Regions from separate parts of the Homo sapiens genome. Here region 2 is linked to region 1. The links come from fine-mapping of genetic effects on gene expression. A gene starts in region 1. The other region holds a variant in brackets. All regions are shown on one strand. Distances are between the middles of the regions.

Region 1 (4,432 bases):
GCACGCAGGTGTCCCCTGAAGTGATGGATGGACAGTGTCCTCACTCATCAAGACCAGACGTGCAAGAGGAAGGGCAGGTATTTTGAGAGGAAGGAGCAAGGGGAAGAGTTCCATTTGGACTCCTTGGCTGTGAAGTGTCCAAGGTTTCCCCCAGAGGAGCTGTCCAGCAGAGGGTGCCGCAGTACACAGTTCTGGGGGTCCCCAGTGTCACGCGGGAGCCAGTGGAGTGAGAAGAGAGGAGATGGGGACAAATCCCTGGGAGGCACCAGTTCAAGAAGGGAAAGTCTGTGATGGGGACTGAGAGGAAGAGGACAGTGGGGATAAGGAGGCAGCTAGACAACCAAGAGAGAGAAGTCACCTAAGCCCAGGAGGAGTGGACAGTACCCGCAGGGCTGCAGGAGGCCTTGCAGGGTAAGAGCAGGAAAGGCGCCCAGAGCCCAGCCCTCAGAGCTGGGAGGTGAGCGTGGCGTCGAGGCAGCCGTGGGACAGAAGGCAGTCTGCAGCAGGTGAGGGGTGGTGGGAGGCAAAGCAGTGGGCAAGGAGCTTGGCTGAGAAGTGGAGTTGAGAGAAAGGGCAGGGGCTGCTAGGGAAGCTGGGGATGAGAGTTGAAGGTGGATGTGCTGTGTTAAAATAGTGAACTGCATTTGTGCACATATACCCTATAAGAGGTGAGTGGGGTGTGGGCCATGGGCTGCCATGGTCAGTGAAGTATACCAAGATGGCTGGGTGAAAACTTGCTCTAAAAACCATTGACTGGGTAGCTTTTGCAGAGATGATACCCCAAAACCAAAAGGCCATTGCTAATTATCTGAAATCCTGGAATGAGACCCTCACCTCCAGGCTGGCTACTTTACCTGAGAATCCACCAGCTATTGACTGGACTTACTACAAGGCCAATGTGGCCAAGGCAGGCTTGGTGGATGACTTTGAGAAGAAGTTTAATGTCCTGAAGCTTCCTGTACCAGAGGATAAATATACTGCCCAGGTGGATGCTGAAGAAAAAGAAGATGGGAAAACTTGTGCTGAGTGGGTGTCTCTCTCAAAGGCCAGGTTGGAGAATATGAGAAACAGCTGGAGAAGATGAGGAACTTAATACCATTTGATCAGATGACCATTGACGACTTGAACGAAGCTTTCCCGGAAACCAAATTAGACAAGAAAAAGTATCGCTATTGGTCTCACCAACCAATCAAGAATTTATAAAATTAAGTCCAGGAAGAAGCCCTGGCCCTTATAGTACACATTCTGGACATTAAAAATAAAAATAATTACATAGGTTTTAAAAAAGAGCTGAGTGGGGACAGAGAGAATTGAAAATACAGGAGGGAGGACAATGCTGGTGAAAGAGGTTCCCCAGGGAGAAGGACCCAGAAAGCAGGGGATGTGGGGAGAAGTGCCCCAGAGCACAGAAAGACAGGGTAGGCATGGGGGTCCCACCCACTCCACAGGCAGAGCCCTTCCCCCTCCTGCCCTCTCTCTCCTTCCACCTGCGCTTTTCTCCCTATGAAAGGGCTTGTGCCTTTCTTACTAGGATCAAGGCCCTTGCTCACCGGCATTCCCACCCTCTCACCTATTTCCACACCTCCTCCACAAATCTTCCCAATTTTTCTTCCTCTATTTTATTTGTGATTATTTGCTTTTATTTGTGATTTGTCTTGGACCTGCCAGGTCTCATGCAAGACAATGCCACTGCCAAAGCTAAATACAGTGAAATCATACCGAAGGAGATCCAGACAGAGAGGGTTCTGTTTGCATTTAATGTTCAGGAAGTGACTTTTCAGGATAAAAGAGAGGCCTTGGTTACCTAGCAGGGTTCTCGGCTCAATGAGGTGCTTTAAGCTGTGAGCAGAGTCTTGGGACCCTGATGCTCCTTCCAGCAGCCCCCTGCATCCCTCTGGCGGGCCCATCAGCTCGCTTCTCCCTCCTGACTTCTCCACCACAGCACAGCACCTCCCTGGGAATGCCCTATTGCTCAAGAGCTATCAAAGGCCCACACGGCATAAGGCTGTGACAGTTCATCAGCCTCCACACCTCCTTTCAATTCAGCAACACTGCCAAGAAAAACCTGAGGGCAAGTGAGCAAACCAGTTGTGATCTGCTCGGTAATCAGGTGGCAGTGCAGCAGTCCAGCCCCGCCTTCGGTTCTCCTGGAGGCTTCCAATGGAAGGGGAAGTAGACACTCTGGCACCAGTTTGCTGAAGCTCCAGACCGCCCAGCTGTTCTGTGGGGAGCATCCCAGGAACCGGAGGCAGCTACCATGGCCCAAGGTAGGGAAAGCCCCTGTGGCCACTGGAGTTCAGGGATAAGAAGGACAGAGAGAGACTGTAGGAAGTCAAGGGGTGGAGGGTGGATTCAGAGAAATAAAGAAGTAAATACAGAACTGAGGCAGGAAAAGCAAGAATCCCAGAAACCTCAGTATTCATTGGTGGCTTGAGAACCAGGAGACAGCGTAGAGGCAGACAGGTAAACACAGCACACAGCTGCTTGCTAACATGCCTGCCTCCATAGCCAGGTGGGACAGGGCAGGGCCAGAGATGAGGGGGTCAGGGTTTCTGTCCTTCTCTGCTACTAGCTGACCCTTTGACATTGGACAAGTCACTTCGCCTCTAGTTTCCAACCCCCTTGCCTGAAAAAGGAGGGATTGGACCAGACAATCTTGAAATTGTCTTCCAGCTCTTAAGTTCTCTGAATCTTCATATCTTCTCTTCTTCCTCCATTTCAGAAGGTCTATTACTGATCTTAGCTAATCTTCCCATCACCAACCTTCTCTCTATATCATCCCCCTCACTCTGGAAAGAGTTGCTGTGAAGATTAAATCGTTAGTTGAAATCATTTAGAGGAATAAGCTTTCAACTTCCTCTACAACTGTAACAACCTTACCTTTATTTATTACTTTTTGTGTTTAAATTTTTGTTTTAAAATTTTCATAACTTTTAATTGCACAAGAAATATGGGAATACATAGTTGGAGTAAAATAAATAAATAATTATAGATAAAGCTATAGTCCTCTGCCCGCCATCCCCAATGGCAGCCTCATCTCCAGAGTAAACACTGTTACCTGTCTTTTGTCTGCACATTTACACTCAGACATACATTTACTCAATGTAATACATAGGATTAGCATGTGTGGTCTTTTTTGGTATATCCATGGTATCATCATATTGTATGTATATTTCTACAACTTGATTTTTTTCACTCCACAGTATGTCTGGGAGCTCTGTCCATGCCAGTCAGTACCTATAGATCTACCTCAATATTTCTCATAGTATCAGTGCAAGTAATTTCTAATCCTGTCCCCTATTGATGGGCATTTAGGTTGTTTTCAATTTTCCGGTTACACAAGCAATATTGCAAGGAACATACTTATCCATGCCTCTGTGTGCTCACGTGGGAGTGTCTCTCTAGGATAACTACTAAGATCACTTACTTTAAAAGTTCTTTCTACAGTCTTCTGTTTATTTCCTGATCATCTCACCCCATTCTCCTCTCACCTCAAGGAAAACAAATATGCCCAGTAGTCAATGAACCTCCTATTTGAATAGATGGCACCTGGGCTGAAGAGTCATTCCTGTCTTAGGCAGAGATTAACATGGCCCAGGATGTCTCTAGAGGATGGAATTTTGTCCCAGCGCTTGCTGCCAGGCAGATGCTGCCATGCCTGCTGAGTAGCCTGCGTCATGTGCCCAACCTGAACTGTAGCCAGTTAGTGCTGTCTAATAAATTGGTCTCCAAAGGGGGCAAGCTTCTTTTTCCACTGTTAGGTAAAAGCCAAGTGCTTTCTTAGCTGGCAGTGGGTGTGGACATTTTTTTGATCATGAGTGAAAGCCAACAGTGGGCAACAGCTCTTGGGGGTGATGGGAAGAGCACTGGACTGGGCTCAGGAATCCTGGTTTAACCTTAGACGAGATATTTAACCCACCTGAACCTTGATTTTCTCATCTCCAAGTGTGGATGACATGACATTTTGTCCCTGCAAGGATGCGATGAAGATTAAATGAGATAACTGTCCTAGCGTACCTGGCACAGTGCCTGGCACATAGTAGATAGGCCCTCAATAAGATGTTGATTAAATCTGAAATCTGAAATACGTACAGGGTGATTTTGCAAAAGATAGAGAATTCTATTCAACCTAGCAAATCTGAGTACCTACAATATGCTGATCATTATGCTTAATTTCTTTTATAATAATAAAAAACTAGTTTATGAAACAGATGTGTGTTAAAGTAATCAAAAGCACTCAAAGAGATTTAACATAAAGTGTAATACTTATTAGGGTATTTTGGCACAGTCAATTTGGTTCATATTTGTTTATAACAACTTTTATTGAGATATAATTCATATACCATCAAGTTCAGCTTTATAAAGTCCACAATTCAGTGGTTTTTCATATACTCACAAAATTTTGCGAGTATCGCCACTATCTAGTTTCAGA
Region 2 (4,000 bases), 28 kb before region 1:
CAAACAGCAGCCAGGAAAAGGCTACCCTGAGTCCTGTTCCCTCCTGTGTGTCCCTGTCTCTTTTGGATCTATGATCATTCAGGGTGGGAGTTGTGTATGGGACGGAGAGGCTTTCTGTGAAGGCTCAGTGGTCCTGCTATGAAAACTTTAGGCCCCTTAGGAACAAATGAGAAGCAACCAGTTCCCAACCAGATTGAGGCCAGCTGCTCTCTGACTTTTTTTTTTTTTTTTTTTTTGAGACAGAGTCTCGCTCTGTCACCCAGGCTGGAGTGCAGTGGTGTGACCTCGGCTCACTGCAACCTCTGCCTCCCGGGTTCACGCCATTCTCCTGCCTCAGCCTCCTGAGTAGCTGAGATTACAGGTGCCCGCCACCACGCCCGGCTAATTTTTTGTATCTTTAGTAGAGAAGGGGTTTCACCATGTTAGCCAGGATGGTCTCAATCTCCTGACCTCGTGATCTGCCCGCCTTGGCCTCCCAAAGTGCTGGGATTACAGGCGTGAGCCACCTCACCCGGCTGCTTTCTGACTTTTAACTATGATCTATGATTTATATCATGACCTAGCTACACATAAAATTGTCCTTGTTCTTCCTATGTGTGATGCATTGTATGTTTTCTATTCCATTCCATTTTCTTATTACAGGCTACCTCTCTCTAAATTGATTTCACAAACTACTAAATGAGTTGGAACTGAAGTTTAAAAACTGCTGTTGAATGATTAAAAGGGATCTGTCTTAGATCTTTCTCTAAATTTTCTGGTTCCAATAACATATCTATTTAAGTGCCCCAACACATCAAGAGGTTTAACAACTTTGTACCAATTGATCCAGTAATTCACCTTTGTTGAATCTACCTTACAAAAGATTGTTGTTAAGAGACAGATCAAGGGATCCTTATGCATATTCTGTTTTTAGCCAGACATTTGACACATTTATGGAAAAGATGAAAACTGGATTTGATTTTAGATTGTGAAGGAAATTAACATTGACTTCAGCTTTATTCAAAGATTAGATGTAGTTAAAGCAGTTGAACAGCTATGCCCAAAGAGTTTTTTTTCTAGTTCTATGTTTTTTTGAGATGGAGTTGCTCTGTCACCCAGGCTGGAGTGCAATGGGGCAATCCTGGCTCACTGCAACCTCTACCTCCTGGGCTCAGGCAATTCTCCCGCCTCAGCCTCCCAAGAAGCTGGGATCACAGGCACTCACCACCAGGCCTGGCTAATTTTTGTATTTTAGTAGATGCAGGGTTTCACCATGTTGGCCAGGTTGGTCTCGAACTCCTGACCTCAAGTGATTCACCCTTCTTGGCCTCCCAAAGTGCTGGGATTACAGGCGTGAGCCATGGTGCCCAGCCCCAAAGAGTATTTCTTAATGGCTCAGTGTTAACATGGAAGAAAGAGCTGATGATACACAACTGGCCACCAACTTAGGCTCTAATGCTTAGAAACATCTTATTACTGATTACTTAGATGAAGACTGGAAGACAGTTTAGCCAGTCTAGAGATGGAAAAGTAAAATATTTGGGTCAAAAAATCAGAATCTATCAACCTGGGCAACATAGGGAGATGCTGTCTCTACAAAATACAAAAAAAATACTGTAGGGCATGGTAGCCCATAACTGTGGTCCAACATACTTGTGAAGCTGAGATGGGAGGATCACTTGAGCCCAGAATGAAGGCTGAGGCTGCAGTGAGCCAGGAGCATGCCATTGCACTCCAGCCGGGCTGCAGAGTGAGACCCTGTCTCCAAAAAAAAAAAAGGATCAAGATAGGTAGGAAAGATGCAAAAACATTAAGAACCTCTGTGGAAGTTCAAAATACAAATGGCACAAAAACTGGCTGGGAGCAAATATGAGTTTTTCCTTTAGGATGCTGCTTAGCAGCCTCTCTTCCCAGTAAAAAATGTCTTCAGACATTGCCAAATGTCCTCCAGGGCACGGAATTTCCCGTTGAG[A/T]ACCACTGAGATAAACTGATGTACTACTAGAGGAAAGACCTGATGAACTTTTGTCGACAGTAAATGCAATCTAAACATTGCCAGCAAAGGTCGCAAAAGAAATGCAATTCAAGAACGCATGATTCCTACCAGTAAGAGTAACTAATATTGACTCCTTACTCTGTACCTGGCACAACGCCAAGGTCCTTCCATGGGCATCCTCACTTAACGCCCACATGAACCCTATAAGGTAGGAATACAATTGTCTCCATTTTTCAGATGAGGACACTGATGTCTAGGGATATTAAGTGACTTGCTCGAGGTCTCACAGCCCAGATGATAGACCTGAGGCTGTGTCAGTCCAGAACCTGCCCACTGCCTACTGTGCTATGAGAGTTTTACAACCATGTACCAGGTGTGCACACACAGGAAGCAGGCAGTGCCCTCCTCATAGACCTGGAAATGGCTGAGAAGTCAGAAGTAAGTTACAAGTGACCCAGAGAGTGTCCAGAATTCCAAAGCAGGGACTTGCCCTATGGCTGAAGTCCCAGCTTCCAGTCAGCTCACTGACTTAATTCATACAAAATCCTAGTATGTTTATTCTTATATCAGTAGGATAAAAGGGTGACTTTTAGAAAGATTGTCAACAAATAGTTAAGAGCATGCAGCGGCACTTCAGGGGTTAAGTTTCGGTTATCTGGAATTGTTTCCCTTTTGGGGACCCCAATCCTTGATCATTGTGGCTCCAGGTCCAGACATGGAATTCACCAGTATCAACACTTCCCCATGCCGATCCCCCCGCACACCCCACTCCCCCCGCACAGCCCCCCGCACACCCCACCCCACCCCCGCACACCCCACCCTCCCCAGCACACCCCACCCCCCCGCACACCCCACCCTCCCCAGCACACCCCACGCCCCCGCACACACACACCCGCACGCCCCCCCCGCACACCCCACCTCCCCCCCCGCACGCCCCACCTACCCCCCGCACGCCCCACCACCCGCCGCACCTCCCAGAAATGACTGAGAAGCCACAAGGGATGCCTGAGCCCAGGGGACTGCAGGTGGGCGTGACCTGTCCCCTCCTCTCCCCTAGTGGCAACCTTGCGGCTTGAGTCTGTCGACCTGCAGAGCTCCAGGAACAACAAGGAGCACCACACGCAGGAGATGGGCGTCAAGCGGCTCACTGTGCGCCGCGGCCAGCCCTTCTACCTCCGGCTGAGCTTCAGCCGACCCTTCCAGTCCCAGAACGACCACATCACCTTTGTGGCTGAGACCGGTGAGTTTGCCCTGTCCCAAGGCCCCGCAGGTTCCGTCAAAATGAGGGCATTTACAGAGTCTGCCTGCGGGGCCCCTGCCTTTCCCACCTGAGCTGCCCTCCACTTTCTTGTCCTGGGAGCCCCAGACCCCTCATGCTCAGGACCCTGTTAGTGCTGTTAAGGAGAGATTTGGTCAACTCGGCAAACTGAGGTTGTGGCAGTTAACAACCGACCTGTAGATACACAACAAGCACTGTGCTAAAACTTTACACACATTAGCTCATTTAATCCCCAGGACAAGACTTTCAGGTGGTACTATTATGATCCCCTTTTAACAGATTAAAAAACGGAGGCCTGGGGGTCTTAAATGGTTTGCCTGAGGACACTCGGTGGCAGTAAAAGCCAAAAGCATTAGCAGGTGGTGGGAGAAGGTGACGGTCCTTCCGACTCCCCTGGAATCATATACCATACAGGTTTTTTGAGCCTCACTGTGGGGTCATTCTCTCCTACACAGGACCCAAGCCGTCAGAGCTGCTGGGGACCCGAGCCACATTCTTCCTCACCCGGGTCCAGCCCGGGAATGTCTGGAGCGCTTCTGATTTCACCATTGACTCCAACTCTCTCCAAGTTTCCCTTTTCACACCAGCCAATGCAGTTATTGGCCATTACACTCTGAAAATAGAGATCTCTCAGGGCCAAGGTCACAGTGTGACTTACCCGCTGGGAACTTTCATCCTACTTTTTAACCCTTGGAGTCCAGGTAGGATGTGCCCACAGCTTGTATTGCTAACCTGATCCATTGGGAAGG

Which allele goes with the higher level. Positions count from the first base shown, and alleles are read on the strand shown. Sizes are in standard deviations (SD) of each study's normalised expression.
As copies of T replace A in region 2, the expression in monocytes of the gene that starts at base 2,179 in region 1 goes down (moderate effect, 0.73 SD a copy in Quach 2016).

The links. PIP is the estimated chance that this variant, and not a neighbour inherited with it, causes the effect. A credible set is the group of variants that fine-mapping cannot tell apart.
Region 2: its variant is the best candidate, but not a certain one, in a credible set for the expression of TGM5 in monocytes (Quach 2016, PIP 0.51).

What each region holds. Positions count from the first base shown.
Region 1 is chr15:43,264,675-43,269,106 of GRCh38, reverse strand. It overlaps TGM5 (transglutaminase 5), which reads left to right and starts at 2,179. Exons shown (of 13, transcript NM_201631.4): 1 at 2,179-2,267. The coding sequence starts at 2,258. It also overlaps the pseudogene ATP5PDP1.
Region 2 is chr15:43,292,661-43,296,660 of GRCh38, reverse strand. TGM7 (transglutaminase 7) reads left to right here. Exons shown (of 13, transcript NM_052955.3): 2 at 3,030-3,212; 3 at 3,707-3,952. Among named protein-coding and RNA genes, the nearest start is that of TGM7, 7.6 kb to the left of the region's middle. The variant A/T (reference allele first, on the strand shown) is at 1,952.